Homo sapiens: one gene and its partners. The protein of the gene in region 1 purifies or fractionates together with the protein of each later gene. This does not show direct contact. Each region holds a gene or a part of one and is shown on either strand. Other genes may lie near its edges.

Evidence for each region. Proteins that work in one complex are often made in the same cells at the same time.
Region 2: the proteins of GMPPB (region 1) and PI4K2B purify together in Homo sapiens (affinity purification with mass spectrometry; 3 studies listed by BioGRID and IntAct, with this or other methods). This does not show direct contact.
Region 3: the proteins of GMPPB (region 1) and PRUNE1 purify together in Homo sapiens (affinity purification with mass spectrometry; 3 studies listed by BioGRID and IntAct, with this or other methods). This does not show direct contact.

Annotation. Positions count from the first base shown.
Region 1 is NC_000003.12:49,720,933-49,727,829, forward strand, and holds the start of GMPPB (mannose-1-phosphate guanylyltransferase catalytic subunit beta), read right to left. Parts: upstream 3,020-6,897; 5' UTR 2,795-3,019; coding exon 2,666-2,794; intron 2,541-2,665; coding exon 2,460-2,540; intron 2,371-2,459; coding exon 2,322-2,370; intron 2,183-2,321; coding exon 2,040-2,182; intron 1,823-2,039; coding exon 1,664-1,822; intron 1,579-1,663; coding exon 1,500-1,578; intron 1,427-1,499; coding exon 1,299-1,426; intron 1,216-1,298; coding exon 1,033-1,215; coding exon of another isoform or gene 952-1,032; coding exon 820-951; 3' UTR 374-819; coding exon of another isoform or gene 253-373; 3' UTR 174-252; coding exon of another isoform or gene 88-173; 3' UTR 1-87. Other genes in the region: E3 ubiquitin-protein ligase RNF123, read left to right, coding at 88-173, 253-373; IP6K1 (inositol hexakisphosphate kinase 1), read right to left, coding at 6,190-6,723. UniProt on the Homo sapiens protein: Catalytic subunit of the GMPPA-GMPPB mannose-1-phosphate guanylyltransferase complex. Catalyzes the formation of GDP-mannose, an essential precursor of glycan moieties of glycoproteins and glycolipids. Can catalyze the reverse reaction in vitro.
Region 2 is NC_000004.12:25,229,183-25,237,051, reverse strand, and holds the start of PI4K2B (phosphatidylinositol 4-kinase type 2-beta), read right to left. Parts: upstream 3,020-7,869; 5' UTR 2,889-3,019; coding exon 2,621-2,888; intron 2,489-2,620; exon of another isoform or gene 2,310-2,488; intron 1-2,309. UniProt on the Homo sapiens protein: Together with PI4K2A and the type III PI4Ks (PIK4CA and PIK4CB) it contributes to the overall PI4-kinase activity of the cell. This contribution may be especially significant in plasma membrane, endosomal and Golgi compartments.
Region 3 is NC_000001.11:151,011,449-151,018,467, reverse strand, and holds part of PRUNE1 (exopolyphosphatase PRUNE1), read right to left. Parts: intron 657-7,019; coding exon 564-656; intron 2-563; coding exon 1-1. UniProt on the Homo sapiens protein: Phosphodiesterase (PDE) that has higher activity toward cAMP than cGMP, as substrate. Plays a role in cell proliferation, migration and differentiation, and acts as a negative regulator of NME1. Plays a role in the regulation of neurogenesis.

The DNA of each region.
Region 1 (6,897 bases):
ATATGTGTGCACTCCTACACAGGCACAACGGACATCCACATAGCCAGGCATCCAACTCCAGCCCACCCTTCACTCTCCTCCCTGCAGCCCACCAGTGAGGAGGACCTCTGCCCCATCTGCTATGCCCACCCCATCTCTGCTGTGTTCCAGCCCTGTGGCCACAAGTCCTGCAAGTAAGTGGGCCCCACAGCTTGGTGGTGGGGAGAGCAGTAGGTACATGCAGGGCAGTCCTCATCCCCTCCCCTGTTGTAGAGCCTGTATCAACCAGCACCTGATGAACAACAAGGACTGCTTCTTCTGCAAAACCACCATCGTGTCTGTAGAGGACTGGGAGAAGGGAGCCAATACGAGTACTACCTCCTCAGCTGCCTAGCCCTCACAGCCTGTGCCATCCTGGAACCTCCACCTTTGAACCCAGAGCCAGGCTGGGCCCTATTTATGAGCTCCCTTTGCCCTTCTCCTGTATCCCACACCACCACATCCAACCTCCTTGCCTGCCTGTATCCTCATTGGTGGGAGCCCAGCCATGGCCCTAATTGTGCCTGAGCTTGACTTTCAGTCAGGGCCACAGTGAGCATTAAATTATTATTCCATACAGCCCTGGCCCTGGCCCTTCTTGAGGGAGTGGGGTTTGTGGGGTGTGCCCAGCAGGGATCCTGCCAGATGATGTCCACATGAGAAGGCAGGTGTCCAACAGCTTCAGCTTCACCCAGTGCCCCCCAGACAAATAATGACAAGTCCAGGGTCTTCTGATGTGTCAGGCCAGCACTCCCCTTGCTGATGGGAAAACCGGGGCTCGGCCAGCCCCACTGCATCCCCTCACATGATGATACGAGGCTCTGGCACTGACTCGCCAATAGACTTGTGGGGCAGCACGCTGGCTCCGTTGAGGTAGAGCTCATCATTAACTATGACGTCCTCACCCAGCACTGTCACGTTCTCCATGCGTACCTCCAGGAGAGGATAGGCCTTGTCAGGGAGGCAGGCACACTCCCCGCCCCTCTCCCCACCCAGCCCAGCCCACAGGCTTACCCACTGACCCACGCGGCAGCGCCAGCCCACAATGCAGGACTCAAGCCAGGAATGGGAACGGATCCGGGCATCCCGCAGCACCGTGCACCGCCGGATACACACACCATCTTCGACCACCACGCCAGGTCCCAGGCTCACATTGGGGCCAATGCTGCAGTTCTGGCCGATGCGGGCACTTGGGTCCTGAGAGCGGTGGGAAAAATACAAGTGGGCCACTTGTCTCCCAAGACTGAGGGGGTTAATGATGGGCTGGGCAAGGGCCTCACCACCAGCACGTTGCCCACAATGCCAGGGCCTGAGCACAGCCGCTCAGGCTGCTTCTGCCTCAGTGACTGCAGGAAGAGGCACATGCCAGTGAGGAAGTCCTTGGGCTGCCCAATGTCCATCCAGAAGCCTGTAGGGAGGGATGCATCAGGGGCCTCAGCCCAGCCACAGACCACCCCCACCCTGTGGCCTCCCTGCCTCACCCTGTAACTCCATGGCATATAGCTGCCCCTCCTTGGCCATAATGGGGAAGACCTCCTTCTCAATGGACGTAGGCTGCAGCTGTGGGAGTGGGCAGCTTGTGAGCAGGGTCATGGCGGTGATGGCCTGCCCCACCCCAGCCCACCAACAGCTGTCTCCTACACACCTGGATGCGCTGCAGCACTGCAGGGCTCAGGATGTACATGCCTGCGTTGATCTTATTGGACACAAACACCTGTGGCTTCTCCACGAACCGGTGAATGCGGCCTGTGTCAGCCTCACACACCACCACACCGTACTTGGAGGGTTCCTCCACCTTGGTCACCTGAATGCAAGGAAGGGGACCTCGGACCTAGTCCAGTGTTCCTAAGCCTTGATACACATGCCGTTCCAGATCTCAAGAGACTCTGCCCCAAGTGCTTAAAGATACATACTGCACAGCTCTGTATCCATAACATCCGAAGGCAGATGAAGGCTAGGGGGCATGGGAGGCTGGGCATGGAGGGTGAAAGTGTCAAGAGAGAGAAGACCTGGCGCCTTACCAGGATGGAGCCCTCCTGGCCATGGTGCCGGTGGAACTGCACCATGGCTTGGAAGGGGAAATCGCAGATCACGTCACTGTTGAGGACGAAGAAAGGGTCTGCAGTCTCAGAGAGTAGGTCACGGGCCAGCGCCAGGGGCCCAGCTGGGGGAAGGGGACAGGTCACCACCTTGCTGGAGGTCTGAGTCCCTGGATTCAGGCTCAGCAGGCCCACTCCAGGCTGGGTCTTACCCTTTTCCTGGCCTTAAACCCTCCCCCAAGGGACCTTTCTGCCTCTACTGACCTGTCCCCAAAGGCTCCTCTTCATGGGACATGGAGATTCGGATTCCCAGCTGGAAGGAAGAGGCCCCCCCAGTCAGGTTCTACCAGGATGGGAAGTTGGGCGGGGACCGAGAATAAGGGCCAAGAGTCTGTGCCTCACCCTCTGCTCCTGTGCCTTCATTTCCTTCTCCAGCACCTGCGACATGTAGCTCACGGCCAGGATCACGTGGTCCACGCCTGCCTGTCAGAACGCAGGCCGACGGGCGGGCTCAGTCAGAAGGTACGGGAGCCCCTGACCCCTAGTCGCTGGCCATCCCTAGTCCCGCCAGATCCGAACGCGACTCTGATCCCGACCCAGGGTCTTACCGCGGCTAGCGCCTCCACTTGGTGCAGCAAGATGGGCTTATTGCAGAAGTCCACCAGTGGCTTCGGGGTGCTCAGCGTCAGCGGCCGTAGCCGCGTCCCATAGCCCCCCACTAAGATCAGTGCCTTCATCGCGCCTGCGGACGTTGAGGGGGTGTCCCGGGCTCTGAGGTGCCTGCAGCCCGCCTGGCCGGTCCCTGCCGCGCACTCCCAACGCCGTGCCCGGCCCCGCGCCCTTCACCAACCCGCCTGACAGACTCTGGCTCCACCTCGTCCGCCCGGTCGCCCTGACGCCGGATCCAGGGCCGCCACAACACAGAACGCGACACCGGGTAGACGGCTGCTGGCCCCGAACTCAGGCCGGACCCGGCGCGGGCAGTGACGCGACCACCGCGGGCCAATCGGCTGCCGCGTACGTGGCACGGCCGCCGGCGTCGGAACGTTGGAGCGCAGCGCTGCGACAGACGTAGCCAATGAGCGCCCGAGTACGCCGGGCTGCCATGGAGACCCGGGCCGGGACCCGCGGGTCAGCTGGCCATTGGCGGATCCAAAGGCGGAACTGGCGCCAAGGGCGAGGCCTTGTTCCCTGCTTCGCCGCGGTCCAGCAGCCGCCGGCCCCGCCCCACGGCCCCGGCCTCGCCCCGAGGGTGACCAGGGAAGGCTCCCGGGCCACGGGATTTTCACAAAGACAGACTCGCCTCCGTTTCTAGCGGCTTTATTTTTGACATACACGACCTCAGACACAAGCGGGGCGGGCAGCGCTAGGTGTACAGAAAGGAGCGGGCTCGGACCGAGCACCCCCTCCCCCGCACGCAAGGTCCAAAGCAAACGCAACTGCGGCGGGAGCCACCGGCGCAGGCCTCGGGCGGTGGAGACAGGCTTAGCTTCCAGGAAAGAGCAGCAGAGAGCGATTCCCAGAACGCGAGGGCTTACAGTTCCCCGAGAAGCAAAAGAACCAGGTCCTTCCCAGGGTTCTCCATTATTTTTTCCTCATTAAAATATATTTTAAGTCAGCACAAACATAACCAAATTGTACAGCTTTAAAGTTCAAAGCAGTCTGCATCTAGGGAACGTGCATGTGGTCAGGAGTGAGCGCGTGAGCAGCGGCTACGTAACTAGCACAGGTGCCAGGCCCCTTGATGGGAATCCCCATGCTCACTGCACAGGCCCAGAGAGGGAGGGGTGGGGTCCCTGGCAAGTTGCTACACTGGTCCCCTTCCTCTTTTAAGCACCACCCGTCCCACCCCACCCTCAGGGGCTGGTGTCAGCTTGGCCCAGGGAAGCACTATAGAGAGGGCTCACCTGAGCACCCCAACCCATGATCCCATGTTGCACTTTGTTCCCAAGTTGGGGCTAAGAAGGCTGGGCCTGGCAGGGACAGGGCTCTCTGGCATGGGGCAGGGAGAAAGCAGTGGCAGACAGTATGCACACACACTTGCCCACTACCATTAAATAACAGGGCTGGGTCTCCAGGTGTCCAAAGTGCTGAAAAGAGGGGCCCTGCTCTAAGGGAGCAGCAGCAAATCCCAGGCCTTCCCACTCTTTGTAGTGCCAGGAAAATACTGAATGTAAGTGGGTGCAGCTTTGCTCGCTGTGAGGAGCAGCAGAATGCGGCAGCCTCTCCTCCCAGAATCGAGGAATCTGGGAGGCACAGGACATCCCCAAAAGGTCCCAAACAGTTCCAGACCCTATGTCTTACCCTCCACCCTACCAGGGAATGACTATCTACACTAATGAAGGGCTACTGCCCCCATGGCTGAAGCCACAGAATGGTACAGGAGAGAAGACTGTAATTTGTGACCAGAAACAGGCAAGCTGTCCCTCCCAGCCCCAAAGAATGGGAACCTGCCCACCAGTGGCACCAGGGCTGGGGGCTAGGAGAGATGGCATCCATCAAGGAGCCCTTAAGAGGCTGCATCTTTAAGGACCAGGAAATGAGTCCATCAGTTACCAAGGCTTCTCACAGCTGGCAGGCTTACCTTTAAAGCCAAACAGGCACTTGCCTAAAGTGACAATGAACAGTGTGGCCCTAGGCTCAAAGGAGAGGGTGCTAACCTTGGCAATGGCTGAAATCGGTGTCACCTCCTGGCCATCTGTTAGAAGCAGCAGATCTGTGCCATTAAGGGCTGGCAGCCAAAATGACTAAAACCATGAGAAAGGAAGGGTCACTCCTCAAGCCCTCACTGCCCCACTCTAAGGGTTGAGGGCCATATTCTAGGCCCACAGAAATGGTGCTGGGTCAACAGGGAAACACCAATTTATTCTGCTATCAGGTCTTTATAAAAAGGCAACACCTGTGGAGGAAGGGCATGGGGCAAAAGCTCACCTCAGAAGTGGAAGTGTTCTGCTGAGGAAAGCATGAAGGAATGAGTATATACTAATGAACAAGGCTACACCCCAGGGGAAGGATCCCAAGGGACGGGCTGGCAGCCGGACACATGGACAAACTGATGGACCCAGGACTGATCAGACAAAGCTCTCATTAGCAGAATGTGGGCACCTGCACCCAGGGCCCATACCACGTCCCTGTGAGCAAAAAAGCTTAAAGTTCTCCCTCCAGGCCCAGGGCCAAGAGCGCCTCACAAAGGGCTGCTGCCTTGAACTTGGCCTGGGGAAATGAGACCCTGAGCGGACCACAGCCCTTGAGCCCTGGGAGGAGCAGCCCATCCAGCAGCAGCACAGCTGCCGAAACTTGAGGAAGAAGACTCCCACCCATAGCACAAGAACTGCAAATACTGTCTGGGCCAGAGCCACCAGAGGCCCTGAGGCCTGCTAGGACACCGACTATCCCCCACTTCAGTGGGGTGGGAGGGAGTGGCCTTCTTAGGCAAGGGAACTTGGTGAGAGAGGCTGTTTCAGGAATAGGACAGGTGCCAACCTGTCACGTGCCAACAGGTGCCTGGGGAACCCAGGCGCCGCCCTCTGCCATAAGTTGGCCTCAGCCCAGCTTCATTAATCTAGCCCCATGCTAAGGTCAGACCGAAGGATGGGTCCAGCTTTGTGCAGTCAGCCCTGTGGTGCCCTGAGGGCACCTATTAAAGAGCTAGCTGACACCCACAGCATAAGACTGGAAAGCCCCCAAGAAATGGGCACCCAGAGCCCTCTACTTCTGGGGAACAAGGGAAGAGTGGGCGTGGAGGGGCCCTGCACCAGCCCAGGGCTTTACCTTACAATCAGCAGGGCCCTGCAGCCACAGATCTCAAAGATCTAGACAAGAGAAACCAATGTCCAAGGGCACCCTGTCCCTGCTGCCAAGCCCACCAGGGGCACCTCTTCCTTCCTAAGGCAGCCTGGACACACCAGTCAGAGCCACAAAGCTGAGGAGCCTGGCTGAGAGGGCGTGTGGTCTGCCCTCCTTCACTTTATATATATGGATTCCAGGCTACAGCTAAAAACATTTCTTTTAGTTTACACCAAAGAGAAATATAACCCTTTAAAAGCAAGTCTGTGTGTCCTCACGGCAAGTTCAGAACAATGGTCCCTGCCTGCAGTGGAGAGGAAGGGGTTCTGGGGGCCCAGAACAGGGCCTACTGGTTCTCGTCCCGCATCTGTTCCATGATGCTGATGAGGTTCTCCAGGCCAAACACGTAGCCTCTGTCTGGCCCATCATGCACGGTGGGGTCATCCCGGAAGCCCTTGAATGTGCTGTGTGCAAAGTCAATCATGCGGACATCCACCTTGGGCTGAGAGGAGGGACCCGCCTCGGGGCTGGTGTTGCTGGGGCTGGTGCTGGGGCCACAGGATGACGCCACCTCAGGGAGCACCATGTCCAGGTGCTTGAGACGCATCTCAGACCGGCGGTCCAGGCAGGACTCAGCCCGGCACTCCTTGCCATCATAGATGACAAGCAGGGAACTGGAGTAGAAGCGGTAAGAGGCCTGCCGCTCCAGCACAGCTTTCAGGCCCCGCAGTTTGCTCAGGATAGGCTCAAACAGGTCACGTCGCAGGTCCAGGCCATTGTGCAGATATTGATAGAGGGCATTGCGGAAGCCTTCAATGGAGAGCCCACGGCCATAGTACTTGTTCCTGCAGAGGTAATGCCCTGTGTCCAGCTGGTACACCTGAAACCCCAGGAGGCAGACAGGGTGAGTGCCAGGGAAGTCTGAAGAGCTCACAGTGCCCTGGGCAAACACTGTCTGGAAGGGACTTTGACCAACCTGAGCTTTTCTGCTCACCTATCTAAGTGGAACCAGGCAGGCCACATTCACCCTGGGTTTTCCCATTGCAGAACCAAG
Region 2 (7,869 bases), on another chromosome or scaffold:
AGAGTTAAGCATCATAAATGATGTTCATATTAATCTAAAGGCAAGAATTTCTTGGAACTAGTGAGGTAGTTTCATGGAAATCGGATGGTAAAGGACAAATGAAGTTAATGGAGTCATTTAAAAAATAACTAAACTTAAAAAGTATTAAATTACTCAATCATGAACATTTTAGTCTTTAAAAATTTTTTAAACAGTTTTCACAGAAACTATTTTAAAGTCCTATTAAAGGTAAAAACCTCCAAAATAACCACAGACACAATTATTTTATAACACTTGTGGACCCATGGCAAAACGGAAAAGGGGCAGAAGATGAAGAAAGAACCAGGCTTCCTCCTGATTTATTACTTCCTGGATATTTGACTTCGGGCAAACCATTTACCTCTGAAGACCTGAGCTACCAGTCATTACCAGTTTATTAATTCTGAATCCTCATAATGAGAATAATGGCGAATAACAACTAACTTGCTGTGCTGTTGTGAAAATAATTAATTTTTTTTTTGAGACAAAGTCTCACTCTGTCACCCAGGCTGGAGTGCAGTGGAGCCATCTCTGCTCACTGCAACCTACACCTCTCGGGTTCAGAAGCGATTCTCCTGCCTCAGCCTCCCAAGTAGCTGGAATTGCAGGCGCCCGCCACCATGCCTGGCTAATTTTTCTATTTTTAGTAGAGGCAGGGTTTCACCATGTTGGCCAGGCTGGTCTGAAAACTCCTGACCTCAAATGATCCACCCACCTAGGCCTTCCAAAATGCTGGGATTACAGGCATGAGCCATGGCACCCAACAGAGAATAAAATTTATTTATTTATTTATTTATTTATTTATTTATTTATTTATTTATTTATTTTTGAGACAGAGTCTTGCTCTGTCTCAAGACAGAACCAGGCTGGAGTGCAGTGGAGAATAAAATATTTTTTTAAAAAAGATCTTAGCAAATTGTAAACTGTGATACAGGTAAGATATTACCTTTAAAAAAGGTAGGAATTCTAAGAATCCATTTGTATTCTAACACTATACTCTATCCTCACTTTGAATTTTTGTTGTTGTTGTTGTTTATTTTTTATAGAGATGGGGATCTCGCTATGTTGCCCAGGTGGGTCTCGAACTTCCAGCCTCAAGCTATTCTCCTGCCTAGACCTCCCAAAATGCTGGGATGGGATTACAGGCCTGCCATCTCGTTGACCTCTCGCTTTGATTTTTTTCTAGCCTTAATACTGTTTGTTTATAAAACACCTCACTTTCACAGAACAAGTGCATTTTGAAGGCTTTAGGCTCTTTTAAAAACCCAGGTACACAAGGTAGCTTACACAAGGTAAGGGACAGAAAAAGGCAAGCTAGCTATTTTACAGACTAAATTCTAAGTAACATATACCCAAATTGCCAATGTAGCTAGGCAAATGCAGACCCGTTTGTGATCTGGTTTCAGCTTCACGTTGTTTGGTTAAACGTCAATGCATCCATCAGGTAACATTATAACGGGAGCAGACGTTGGTTAAAGCTTAAACAATCAGACAAACTGCTCCCCTTGGGATTCTCTGATTTATTTACTCTAGAATATGCCTGAATGTAGCCTCTAGCTAGAACTTGAGTGACCGATTCTATCCAAAATTCTTTAAACTGTAAAGGACACATTAGTGTACCACTAACAGTACATTTAAAATCTAACAATTCCAAAAAAAACTAAGCAGTGTTAAAGAAACTTCCATTTTCTGTGGTTTTTAAGTTGTCATGTGTGAAGCGATAAACCAACCGGGTGCACAACATCTCATTTAATCCATCCTCACAACCAGCAGGGAGGTGTACCATCGCCTTTTTACAAACAAGTCTGTCTCACCTCTAGCTGAGAGTCTTACAAGTCTCTTGCTATTTCCATCACATTTGTCTAACTCCATTCAACACGCCAGAAAAACTCACTTTATTAATAAATATCCAGGCCTGCACAGCATACCTAAATTTAACCTTCAACATCATTTCAACTGCCCTGTTTCGCCTGAGGTTATCAGTCCGCTTAATAGCGAAAAGAGGTTTTTCGTTTTGGTTTTCTTATGTATTAGAAGTAAATCAAGAAAGAGAAACTAAACTGTAAGAGGGCAGGAACAGACTTTCAACTGCTTTTGCCCCCTGTGGCTAACTTCATAATAACAACATTTAATAGAAAAAGGTTTTGAAACGTGCCCCAGTGGCAACTGGATATTCTGGCTGTCCATCTCTCTCCTGTCATCCACTTTGCAAATTCACCACTCCGGGAACTTTCCTGAGAGTTCAAGGTTCTTAATTCAAAAGTCAAGTCCAAACTTGAGCAAGGACTTACGTCATTTTACAGCGTTAACCTCTCCCCAGTGTCGGTTTCTAGAAGTTTTGACTCACTTTGCGGGGAGGTCTAAAGAATCGGTTTAATGACAACCACTGGCCTTAGGAGAGGGAGCTCCCGGAGAAAGAGCGAGCAAGCTAGGTGCCCGCGGTGCGGCTGCGGCTGGCGCCGGTCCGAGCTCGGGAGCTGCTGCCCAGCGAGCGGGGAAAGCCCGTCCACCTCGGCCAGCGCGCGCGGGAGACAGGACCGAGCCGGGCGACAGGGGCAGCCGCCCGGAGGGGCGCGGGGAGTGGGGCAGGGCCGGGTCGCACCTGAAACCGCGGGGCGGCTCCGGTCCAGCTCGGCGGACGAACTCCGGGAGACCCCCACGTCCCCGGGCGGGAGGGGCAGCTCCTCGTCGCCGGCCTCGCCCTCCTCCCCGGCAGCGTCCAGCAGCCTCACGGCGCTGCCTGGGGCGCCTCTCCGCGGGTGGGCCCAGGCGATCCGCGGTAGCAGCGGCTCCCGCTCCCCATCCTCCTCCTCCTCCGGGCTCCCGCCGTCCGCGGACGCCAACCGGTCGGGCTCGGAGGGATCCTCCATGGACTCCCTCTGCTCCCTCCGCGCTGAGACCAGATCAGAGCAGCCAGGTGCCAGAGACTGGGCTCTGCATGGCGCGGAACGGGAGCGACCGGGTAGAACGGACGCCACCTCACCAGCGCACGGGCACGCTTGGCGCCCGCCCAGCGGTTGTCCCGCCTCGCCGCCGGCCGCGCCCCACCTCGCGCCTCCGCCAGGCACCACCCCCGCGCCTGCGCAGAAGGGTCGTGGCGGCGGCGGCGGCGGCAGCGGGGCACGTGGGAGTGAACAGGGGGCGGGGCTTTTGAGGGGTCAGGTGGGGTGGGGCCGCCACCTGCTTCCGTGAGCGCGGGGAGAAGCTGGGCACAGCTCGCTTTACTCCCAGTGGAGGGCGGGAAGGTGAGTAATTTTCAAAGAGGTGCCCTCCTGCAACCAAAAGCGGCTTCTCCCTGACAGAATTCTCTCTCAGAGTTTACCATAATCTGTAACTATAGATTTAATTGTATGACATTTCTTTCCTCCAGTAGACGTCCAGGAGGGCAGGGACCTTGTCTTTGTTCAGATATTCTTGATAGTGGCAGTTTGTATGTTTTCTTTTTCTGACTAATCTAGCTAGAAGTTTATCAATTTTTAAATCTTTTCAAAATGTCATGTTTTGGTTCCATTGATTTTCTGTTTTCTGGTCCATTGCCTTATTTTGCTCTTTATTGCTCACTTGAGTTTTGATTTCCTCTTCTTTTTCTAGTTGCTTAGAGTAGAAGATGATTGATTCTGGATCTTTCTGCTTTTCCAATGCTAGTATTTTAAGGCTATAAATTGCCCTCTAAGCACTGCTTTAGCTGAATTCTCCTTTTTTTTTTTCTTGGTGGTTGTTATTTTTGAGACAGGGTCTCACTTTGTTATCCAGGCTGGAGTGCAGTGACACAATCATAGCTCACTGCAGTCTCAACCTCCTAAGCTCAAGGGATCTTCTCAGCTTTAAACTGTAGAAGACACAGTAGCTGGAACTGCAGGTGTGCACGACCACATCCTGTTAATTTTTAAATTTAAATTTTTTGTAGAGATGGGATCTCACTGTTGCCCAGATTGGTCTTGAGCTCCTGGTCTCAAGCAGTCGTCCTGCTTCAGCATCCCAAAATTCTGGGATTACAAGCATAAGCCACCTTGCCTGGCCTGCTACTGTGCTTTTGTTTTCCTTCAGCTGAAAATAGTTTTTAATTTCCTTTATGATTTCCTCTTTGACCCTGTAAAGGAAAATAAAAATCTCAGAACCACCCCCCACCCCCAACTTGTTATGTCAAAGGGAGAGTTAAGCCTGGAGACTGAAGTCACTCAACACTACAATGCTTTTCCCAAATGGATAGCTGTTACTTCCCATAGTTGTATTAAAACTTTATATGTTAGCCAGACCCTCCTCAAAATGCAAAAAAAAGCCTTATGCATCTCAGTCTCAGGATGACTGTCCTCAACAAATTAATCATAGTAAATTCTTTACTGGCCCTTAAACCTTTCAAGATGTATATCCTTCCATAAAACAAGGACGTGTCAATTGTATAACTTTAAGTCTGCAACCTAAATCAAACTGGTACAACTAAAGTCTGTTAAATTTCACATGGATAAATTCAGTTACAAGCTTATCTTCCCAGATGCAGAACAAGGATAAGATCAATCATTCCTTCACCTGAGATATCTGTATAATTAACTTCCTTTACTCCATTTTCTTTGAATATTCACCTTATCTTATGCATAGCATAGAGTTACTGGGCACTACCTAAAGTCTAGCAAAAATGTAACCATTTGCTTCACCACCTACAACCCTCTTCCCTGATGCCTTCTCCGCTTTAAAGAAAGAATAGCTGTAATTACAGGTGCCTGCCACCATGCACGGCTAATTTTTGTATTTTTTAGTAGAGATAGGGTTTCACCACATTGGCCAGGCTGGTCTCGAACTCCTGACCTCAGATGATCCACCCGCCTCGGCCTCCCAAAGTGCTGGGATTACAGGTGTGAGGTACTGCACCTGGCCTGTAAATGCCTTTTAATTGGAGTTTGGGGTCCATTTACATTTAATGTAATAATGATGTGGTTGGATTTAGATCTATTATTTTGCAATTTGGGTTTTATTTGCTTTAACCTTTTCGGTTCCTCTGTTCCTCCTTTCCTGCCTTCGTTTGGATTAATTCAATAATTCTGATTATTTCATTTTCATTCCACCATTGACTTTCTGTTATACTTATTTTTTTTCTTTTTTTGAGATGGAGTTTCACTCTTGCTGCCCAGGTAGGAGTGCAGTGGTGCAATCTTGGCTCACTGCAACCTCTGTCTCCTGGGTTCAAGCTATTCTCCTGCCTCAGCCTTCTGAGTAACTGGGACTACAGGCACATGCCACCATGCCCAGCTAATTTTTGTATTTTTAGTAGAGACGAGGTTTCACCATGTTGGCCAAGATGTTCTTGATCTCCTGACCTTGTGATCCACCCACCTGAGCCTCCCAAAGTGCTAGGATTACAGGCATGAGCCACCACGCCTGGCCTCTGTTATACTTCTTTACATTAATTTTTAGTGCTTACACTAGGGTTTTCAATACTCATCCTTAAATTATCTCAGTGTACTAAGAGCCAATATTGTACTATTTGACATAAGAGGTAAGAACTTAGTGTCATTCCATTTATGCCCCATCGTTTATGTTATTGCTGTCATGTATACTAGACCTAAATATTTAAATACAGTGAATAATTTTTGCCTTAATTGCTTTTTTAGAGAAATTACCCACATAGTTACAACTTCCGGTGTTCTTCCTTCCTTTTTGTAGATCAGAGTTTCTATCTAGTATCATTTCCCTTTCCTCTGAAGAATTAAAAACAAATTTTATAATGCAGATTTGCTGATTAATATGGCTTGGCTGTGTCTCCACCAAATCTCATCTTCAATTCCCACGTGTTGTGGGAGGTGGGAGGTGGGAGGTGATTGAGTCATGGGGGCAGATCTTTCCAATACTGTTTTCATGATGGTAAGTGAGTCTCATGAGATCTGATGGTTTGAAAAACAGGAGTTTCCCTGCCCAAGCTCTCCTTGCCCGCTCCCATCCACGTTAGATGTGACTTTCTCCTCTTTGCCTTCCCCCATAATTGCAAGGCCTCCCCAGCCATGTGAAATTGTAAGTCCAGTAAACCTCTTTCTTTTGTAAATTGCCCAGTCTCAGGTATGTCCTCATCTGCAGCATGAAAACAGACTAATACACTGGTGATAAATTTAAGTTTTAATTTATTAGAAATTGTCTTTATTTTACCATCATTTTCAAATGCTATGTCCTCTGGATACAGACTTCTGGGTTGATATTGCTATCCTTACCCATCTAAGTTCAACTGTAAATATGTCATTCTATTGTCCTCTTGCCTTCATTGTTTTTGAATCATAACCCTTCACTTACACACCCGACTTGTGCTATGTCATTTTCTCTAGCTGCCTTTAAGATTTTCTCTGGTTCTTTGGTTCTTTGATTTTCAATAGTTTGACCATGATGTTTTTGGTATGATTTTCTTTACAAATATCTTGCTTAGGTTTTGCTTTACTTCTTGAATCTGTAGATTTATGTTTTCCACAAAATTTGGAGAAATGTCATTCTTTTTTTTTTTAGAAGCAGTTTATTACCTTAAAGCATTTAGCAAACCTAATGTCTGACCTAATTTCAACCAAATGTCTTTATTTTACCAATAATCTTCAAAACTCTTGATTTCCCAAAGCCTACTAAAGTCATGCTGTCACAGGCCATTAGACAGCATGAGCAGGGCAGGAAAGGGCTCTTCTCCCACCCACCAGGAATGTTGGGTGATGGCTCAGCAGTTATCACATTGCCTCTCTAAAAGTCATACATTGGCACCTAGGGTCAGGGAGACGCCATTTCCTGATGGTCCACACCTATTGCACTAAAGTGTTAATTGAATGCAGATGCCAGGGAGATGCAACTTCCCAGGCAAATGCATTAAGAGACAAAACGGCAGAGTATGACCTTTCCGTGGCACTCCATGGGAAAAGGGAAGAAAGCCTTGGGTGGGCATGTGTACAACTTCCTAAACACACTGCATGTGCTCACCTCCCAAGGATAGGGAGGGCACTGTGCATGCGGGCAGCTCACCCTAAGGAAAGAATCATGGGAAAAGAGCCAGCCTATAAAGTCCTAGGATCAAGGTTCAACACTGCACTTGACCTTCACGTGCCCACGTGCCTGCTTGAGTCTCTTCCAAGCATACTTTCATTTCTTTCCTGTTCTAAAGCCTTTTTAAATAAGCTTCCACTCCTGCTCTGAAACTTACCTTGGTCTCTTTTTCTGCCTTATGCCCCTCAGTGGAATTGTTTCTCCTGAGGAGGCAAGGATCGAGGTTGGTGCTGACTAGTGCAGATTCGCTGCTGGTAACTTGGATACCTTCCACCAGTAACAACATCAACTGAAAGGCATTACAGTTTTTATTTTTCTGACAAAATATTTGATTTAAGCACTTGTTATTTTTAAAACATTAATTAGAGCTCTTTCATATATAAACATTACACACATAACACACATATAACTACACAGACAGACAGAAGATCCAGTAGTTGTAGGATTTTTCATTTGCCAGTTTTTGTTTCTTAATTGGATTACTGGCTTCAAGGTGGAGCCCTTGGAGGAACAGGGCTAGGAAAACGTGCAGTTTCTAGGGCCTAATAAGCATACAGAGCTGGAAGGCAAAACAGATCCCCAAAACTTCAGGGTCCCTTTTTCATACTAGATCCTGAATCCCCAAAAAAGAAATGCTACGGAACAAGACAGAGCGTGATTTTACCATGCATTTCATTGCAAAGCAACCCAAAGACAGTTAGCCTGTTCTGTGATCTCAGTCATTATTTCTTCAAATATTTCTTTTCTGCTCTATTCTCTTTTCCTTCTGAGATTTCTATTACATGGATGTTAGACTCTTTGATATTGTTCCAAAGGGCAGTAGAACTCTACCTATGTTTTCATTTTTCT
Region 3 (7,019 bases), on another chromosome or scaffold:
TCTAGATAGGAAAGTGAAAAGAAGGTATCACAAGGTTTTATAATGACAGGAAAAAGTAACAAGACTACTGGGACCAAAGGAGACATACTTAGGTAAGTTACCACCTTTCTCAAAGCCATAAGTACCCAGTCTATAAAAATGAAAGGATGACTTTTGCCCTCCCTCCTTCTTAGTAATAACATGAAAGTCAACAAGGTAACTCATGGTAAATACCTATTTCTAGATGCAATGCTGCAGAGAAGGAATTTTTAGTCCTCAAGAACTAACCTGGGCAGAGGAATACACACTAGATCACTGATACCTATACGGAACTCAGTAATAAACTGTTTGAATATTGCTTTATGGTTTACATATCCCTCGAAATATATTTGCTCACTTTTTTCCTCACAGCAACACTGCAAAATATCATTTTAGTTTTTATGGATGGTGGCATGAGACTCAGCAAAGTTAAGGGATTTAATTTACCCAATGCTAAATGCTGGTAAGTGGTAGAGCTGGGTCTTGAATCCAGATCTTTTCGTTCTGAGGGACTCAGATCCTAGGTACTACGTTTTTTTACCCACCTTTGCTAGGTAAAAAGCCAGGGCAAGAGCAGACACTGTGGAGTCCAAATCACAGGCTTCATTTCCCAGCACAACATGTAGAGGTCGGGACTCCTGGAGAGAAAGGAAAATGGGAAACTAACAAAAGTATCTCTATTCATTTCCACTTATCTTTTTTTTTTAAATAATATATATATTTTTGAGACAGGTCTCACTCTGTCGCCCAGGCTGGAATGCAGTAGCGTGATCACAACTCCCTGCAGCCTCAACCTCCTACTAGGTTCAGTCGATCCTCCTGAGTAGCTGGAACTACAGGAAAGCGCCACCATGCCCAGCTAATTTTTTGTATTTTTTTGTAGAGACGGGATTTTGCCATGTTGCACAGGCTGGTCTCAAACTCCTGGGCTCGAGATCCAAAGTGCTGGGATAACAGGTATGAGCCACTGTGCCTGGCCTCTCCATCTACCTTATACTCATGTAGGGCTTCACACACTTCCTCTCATTGATCTTCACAGAGGAGGTAGGTCAAATAATCTAATGGGTCCTCATTCCATAGATGGCATAAGTGTTTCAGCTAAGCTTATAGCATTCTACCTATATCCAGTTTGTAGAAAAGTGTTCTTTCCTCCTATCTCCTTCAATGTTAACTTATAGAGCAGTAAATAAACTTCGGATTTCTTATCTTCTTTGGGCACTCAAACAGTCAAAAAAGGGAATTTGGGGTAGCTGATACATTCAAGGCATGCTCTTGGGCATATCAACCCTGGTTGATTATTTTCTTCCCATTTTCATAATAGGTAAAAGAATGCTTATACTTTTTTTTTTTTTTTTTTGAGATGGAGTTTTGACCAGATTCTCATGCCTCAGCCTCACAAGTAGCTGGGATTACAGGAATGCGCCACCACACCTAGCTAATTTTGTATTTTTAGTAGAGATGGGGTTTCTCCATGTTGGTCAGGCTGGTCTCGAACTCCCGACCTCAGGTGATCCGCCCGCCTTGGCCTCCCAAAGTGCTGGGATTACAGGCGTGAGCCACCGTGCTCGGCCGAATGCTTACACTTCTAAATCATGATTGCAGGTGAAGAGGCTTTGAGAATAAAGGTTAAAAGTAAGATCTAGTCCAGGGCTGGGCGTGGTGGCTGGCGCCTGTAATCCCAACACTTTGAGAGGCTGAGGCGGGCGGATCACCTAAGGTTAGGAGTTTGAGACCAACCTAACCAATATGATGAAACCCCATCTCTACTAAAAATACAAAAATTAGCCAGGCATGGTGGTATGCGCCTGTAATCCCAGCTACTCAGGAGGCTGAGACAGGAGAATTGCTTCAACCCGGCAGACGGAGGTTGCAGTGAGCCGAGATTGCGCCTTTGCACTCCAGCCTGGGCAACAAGAGCGAAACTCCATCTCAAATAAATAAATAAAATAAAATATACTAAAACTGGAGTGCCCAAAATCGGGGTGACAGGGTCTTGGGTTTTGTTTGGTTTTAAGCATTTATTGAATGTGCCAGGCATTATTCTCATATTTTTTCATGCATTAATCAATCATTTAATCTTTAACCCAATGAGGCAGGTACTTATATCATTTCATTCCAGGTATAAGCATTCTGCTGGGTGGAATGAGACCAGAAAGCCTATGGCCCAGCATATGGCACAATACTTCTGTCTTACCTGCTTACTTTTTTTTTTTGAGACAGGGTCTTACTTTGTTGCCCAGGCTGGAGTGCAGTGTCACTATCTTGGCTCACGGCAACCTCCACCTCCTGGGTTCAAGCAATTCTCCTGCACCATCCTCCTGAGTACCTGGGACTATAGGCATGCGCCATGATGCCCGGCTAATTCTTGTATTTTTGGTAGAGATGGGGTTTTGCCATGTTGGCCAGGCTGGTCGTGAACTCCTGACCTCCAGTGATCCGCCCACCTCAGCCTCCCAAAATGTTGGTGTGAGCCACCATGCCCAGCCCACCAGTTTACTTTTGAACTTCTATCTCAGCCTGGTTCTGAGAGAGGATGGGATGAGACAGACAAAATGAGACACACTAAATATAGCAGGGTTTCTCAATTTCAGCATGACTGGTATTTTGGACTAGATAATTCTTTTTCTTTTTTTAACTTTTACTTTTTGAGACAGGGTCTCACTCTGTAACCCAGGCTGGAGTGCATGGCGCAATCACGGCTCACTGCAGACTCCACCTCCCAGACTCAGGTGATCCTCCCATCTCAGCCTCCTGAGTAGCTGGGACTACAGGCACCCGCCACCATGCCCGACTAATTTTTTTTTTTTTTTTTTTTTGAGATGGAGTCTCACTCTGTCGCCCAGGCTGTAGTACAGTGGTGTGATCTCGGCTCACTGTAACCTCCACCTCCTGGGTTCAAGAGATTCTCTTGCCTCAGCCTCCTGAGTAGCTGGGATTACAGGCACATGCCACCATGCTCGGCTAATTTTTGTATTTTTAGTAGAGACGGGGTTTCACCATGTTGGTCAGGCTGGTCTTGAACTCCTGACCTCGTGATCCGCCCGCCTCAGACTCCCAAAGTGCTGGGATTACAGGCATGAGCCACCGTGCCCGGCCCTTGTTTTTTTTTTTTTTTTTCAGATGGAGTCTCACTCTGTCGCCCAGGCTGGAGTGCAGTGGTGCAATCTGGGCTCACTGCAACCTCTGCCTCCTGGGTTCAAGTGATTCTCCCCCTTCAGCCTCCCGAGTAGCTGTAGTAGACTACAGGCGTGCGCCACCACACCCAGCTAATTTTTGTATTTTTTAGTAGAGACAGGGTTTCACCATGTTGGCCAGGCTGGTCTTGAACTCCTGACCTCAGGTGATCCGCCCGCCTCAGCTTCCCCAAGTGTTGGGATTACAGGCGTGAGCCACCACGCCCAGCCAAATTTTTGCATTTTTTGTAGAGATGGGGTTTTACCATGTTGCCCATGCTGATCTCGAACTCCTGGGCTCAAGTGATACAGCTGCCTCGGCCTCCCAAAATGCTTGGATTACAGGCATGAGCCACCATGCCCAGCCGGATAATTCTTTTTTTGTGGAGGCTGTCCTGTGCATTATAGGATATTTGGCAGGATCCCTAGCCTCTACCCACATGGATGCCAGTAGCACCCTAAGTCGTGACAAACAAAAATGTCTCCAGACTTGCTGAATGTTCCCTGGGGGGCAAAACTGCCCCCAGTTGAGAACTACTGGGTTACAAGAAGGTGAAAATCCATATAGTCTGACTTCTTCAATCAGGGAAGATTTGCTAGACTCAAGAGTTTAGCAAAGTGGGAAGGTTCAGAGGAGTAACACATAGCAAAGAATAGTTATCAACTAATGTAACTTTAAGAAAAAAAGGGAATCTAGGGAAACCTAGAATCATCTTCCCTATACAGGCTATCACTCTTCTCTTCCCCCACTGGAAAGCCACAGCTCAAAAAGGGCAATTTTAGAAGACTTCTGGTGGTATCAATTGCCCCATCCAGTTACGAGATAGGTTTTTGTTTTTAAACCACCCTCGTCGCCATCTCCTACTCCCATCCCTGGAGAGAAATACAGAAGACAGAGGTTATCTGTCCGGGTTCTGCCCAAAGGGCCCCTAAAGAAGTTTGCCCTGAGGTCCTCCCCATGCCTATTTCTCTAAGTCTACTTCAAGAGTTTGGAAGCAGGCCGGGCGCGGTGGCTTACGCCTGTAATCCCAGCACTTTGGGAGGCCGAGGCGGACAGATTACAAGGTCAGGAGATCGAGACTATCCTGGCTAACCTGGTGAAACCCCGTCTCTACTAAAAATACAAAAAATTAGCCAGGCGTGGTGGCGGGTGCCTGTAGTCCCAGCTACTCGGGAGGCTGAGGCAGGAGAATCTTTTGCACCCGGGAGGCGGAGGTTGCAGTGAGCCAAGATCGTGCCACTGCACTCCAGCCTGGGTGACCGAGCGAGACTCTGTCTCAAAAAAAAAAAAAAGTGTGGAAGCAAAGGCCCATTCATACTGAACAGCACTGGGGTAGGGGGATTCTTTACTTTTTTCCAAAGCAGTAAGAATTCTACCCAATACCCCAGTCCTATAGTAACTCCTCTGACTTGTAATTCCTCCTCCTGATACCAGAGACCTCTGTTTCCTGGAGACCAAGAACTGCCCAAATGGCTGTGGACCAAAGTGACAGCAAAGCACTTGAGATAAGAGGCTGCAGAAATAACTTGCTCACTGAAGCAGTTAGGGGGAGCGAGTGTTCTCTAGAGAGGAAACTATATAAACATGAGGCATATGGCCCTGACTGGAGGAAAAACATAAGAGCAGTGGAGAAAAGGCAGAGCAAGCAGGAGAGACCTACTGCAGGGTCCAAAGAGATGCTGGAGAACCTTTCCACGCTTATTTACATCAGTGTTGCTTCACTGCAAGCAGCAGCTGAATCAGGTTCAGTTAGATCCTTACCATGAAGAGAATGCTAAGCAGAAAAGCACAAAGTAGGGACCAAATACAGTGGTATGGTTCTGAAGTCAGGAGAAACCATCTACAGAGGAAGGTGAACAATGAACCCCTTGCGCTCAGCCAAACCTAGACAGTAACCAAAAGGAATGAATACAAAAGGAATACTTTGGGACTTGTAGCAAATCTTGGAACTGGAGTGACCAAGGGAGGCAGCAGCATTCCTCTCCCCTGTCAACACCCACTGTCACCCCGGCCTGACTGGACTATTCACCACCCGCAAACCATGATGTGCACATTCCCAGCTCTGCCCTTTGCACTATTTGTTCTCTGTTTGAATGCAGAACTACTATTTGAAAAGATCACAGACTTTGGGGTTGAATTCCAGCTCTGCTTCTTACTTGTTGCAGGACTTTGGACCCTCTAAGCCTCATTTTCCTCATATAAAAATGAGAATAGGCCGAGCGCGGTGGCTCACACCTATGATCCCAGCACTTTGGGAGGCCAAGGTGGGCGAATCACCTCAGGTCAGGGGTTCGAGACCAGCCTGGCAAGCATGGTGAAACTAAAAAGCACAAAAATTAGCCGGGTGTGGTGGCAGGTGCCTGTAATCTCAGCTACTCCAGAGGCTGAGGCAGGGAGAATTGCTTGAACCCGGGAGGCGGAGGTTGCAGTGAGCCGAGATCCCACCATTGCACTCCAGCCTGGGTGACAGTGTGAGACTCCATCTCAAAAAAACAAACAAAAAAAATGAGAATAATATCGTAACCAATTTCATGATGTTGTTAGGAGGATTAAATGAGATAGTACCATAAGTGCCTACGCTGTAAATAGTAAAGATGTGATCTCCCATCTTCTTTCTTTACTTCTCCCCGTTGTTCAAGTCTACCTAATGTCTTTCTCTGTGAAGCCTTCCTGAACACCCAGCCCAGAGAAATCCTCTTCCTCTAAACCTCCAGCTTCTAGCACTTGTGGCTCTGAGACAGACCTTAACTTCTATCTTAAGGAGCTCCCTGTCTTTTCATGGTCATGTATCCCTGATCCTTAACATGGCTTATGTGGTGGGTGACTATATATTTGATTGTTCAAACTGGGACGCTTATGAGAATGAAAAGGGGTGCTATTAATGATTACACAGGGGAAAACCAAGACTGCCCTGGGCAAACCGTGTGTGGGGCTGCCCAACTTATAAGACATCATTCTCTTCTTTATTTAAGAAAAACATGTGTAACCCCTAATTCCAAGCCCATCCTCCACCAGCTGAAAGCACAAGCCAAACAGCCTCAGTTTTCTGACCATCAGAGAAAGAGTTCAGGGAAAATACAGCTATACTTAGCAGCATGAGGAAATCTAAGCTGCCAATGGAAAAAATACAATCTGAGGGCCACAAGTAAATAAATACAAACTTTTTTTCTTTTTTCTTTTTTTTAAAGACCCACTAGTTGGCCAGGCACGGTGGCTCACGCCTGTAATCCCAGCACTTTGGGAGGCCGAGGTGGGCCGACCACGAGGTCAAGAGATTGAGACCATCCTGGCCAACATGGTGAAACCCCGTTTCTACTAAAAATACAAAAATTAGCTGGGCATGGTGGCACATGCCTGTAGTCCCAGCTACTCGGGAGGCTGAGGCAGGAAAATCACTTGAACCTGGCAGGCGGAGGTTGCAGTGAGCCGAGATCATGCAACTGTACTCCAGCCTGGTGACAGAGCGAGACTTTGTCTCAAAAAAAAAAAAAATTAATTAATTAAAATAAATAAATGAATAAACACCCACTAGTTGAAATGACTCTCTTATCCTGATATGTTCTTTGTGGCCTCAAGAGGAGGGGGCAGGGAGGGGATTCTAGGCCTGGCAAAGTAAACCACTTCCCTTCTAAAGCTGAATATGGTATGATAACTACTCTTCAGAATAGTTAATGGGGGAGAAAAATAAACGAGACAGAAAGCCAGAGAGAGACAAACCCTCTCAGCAGAGAAAACAGGAACAATACTGATGCCAGGACTGCAAATTTCTAAGGAGAGCCAGCTCCTGATTCCTGCCTCATGCCTGAGAACTGCACACACTACATTAT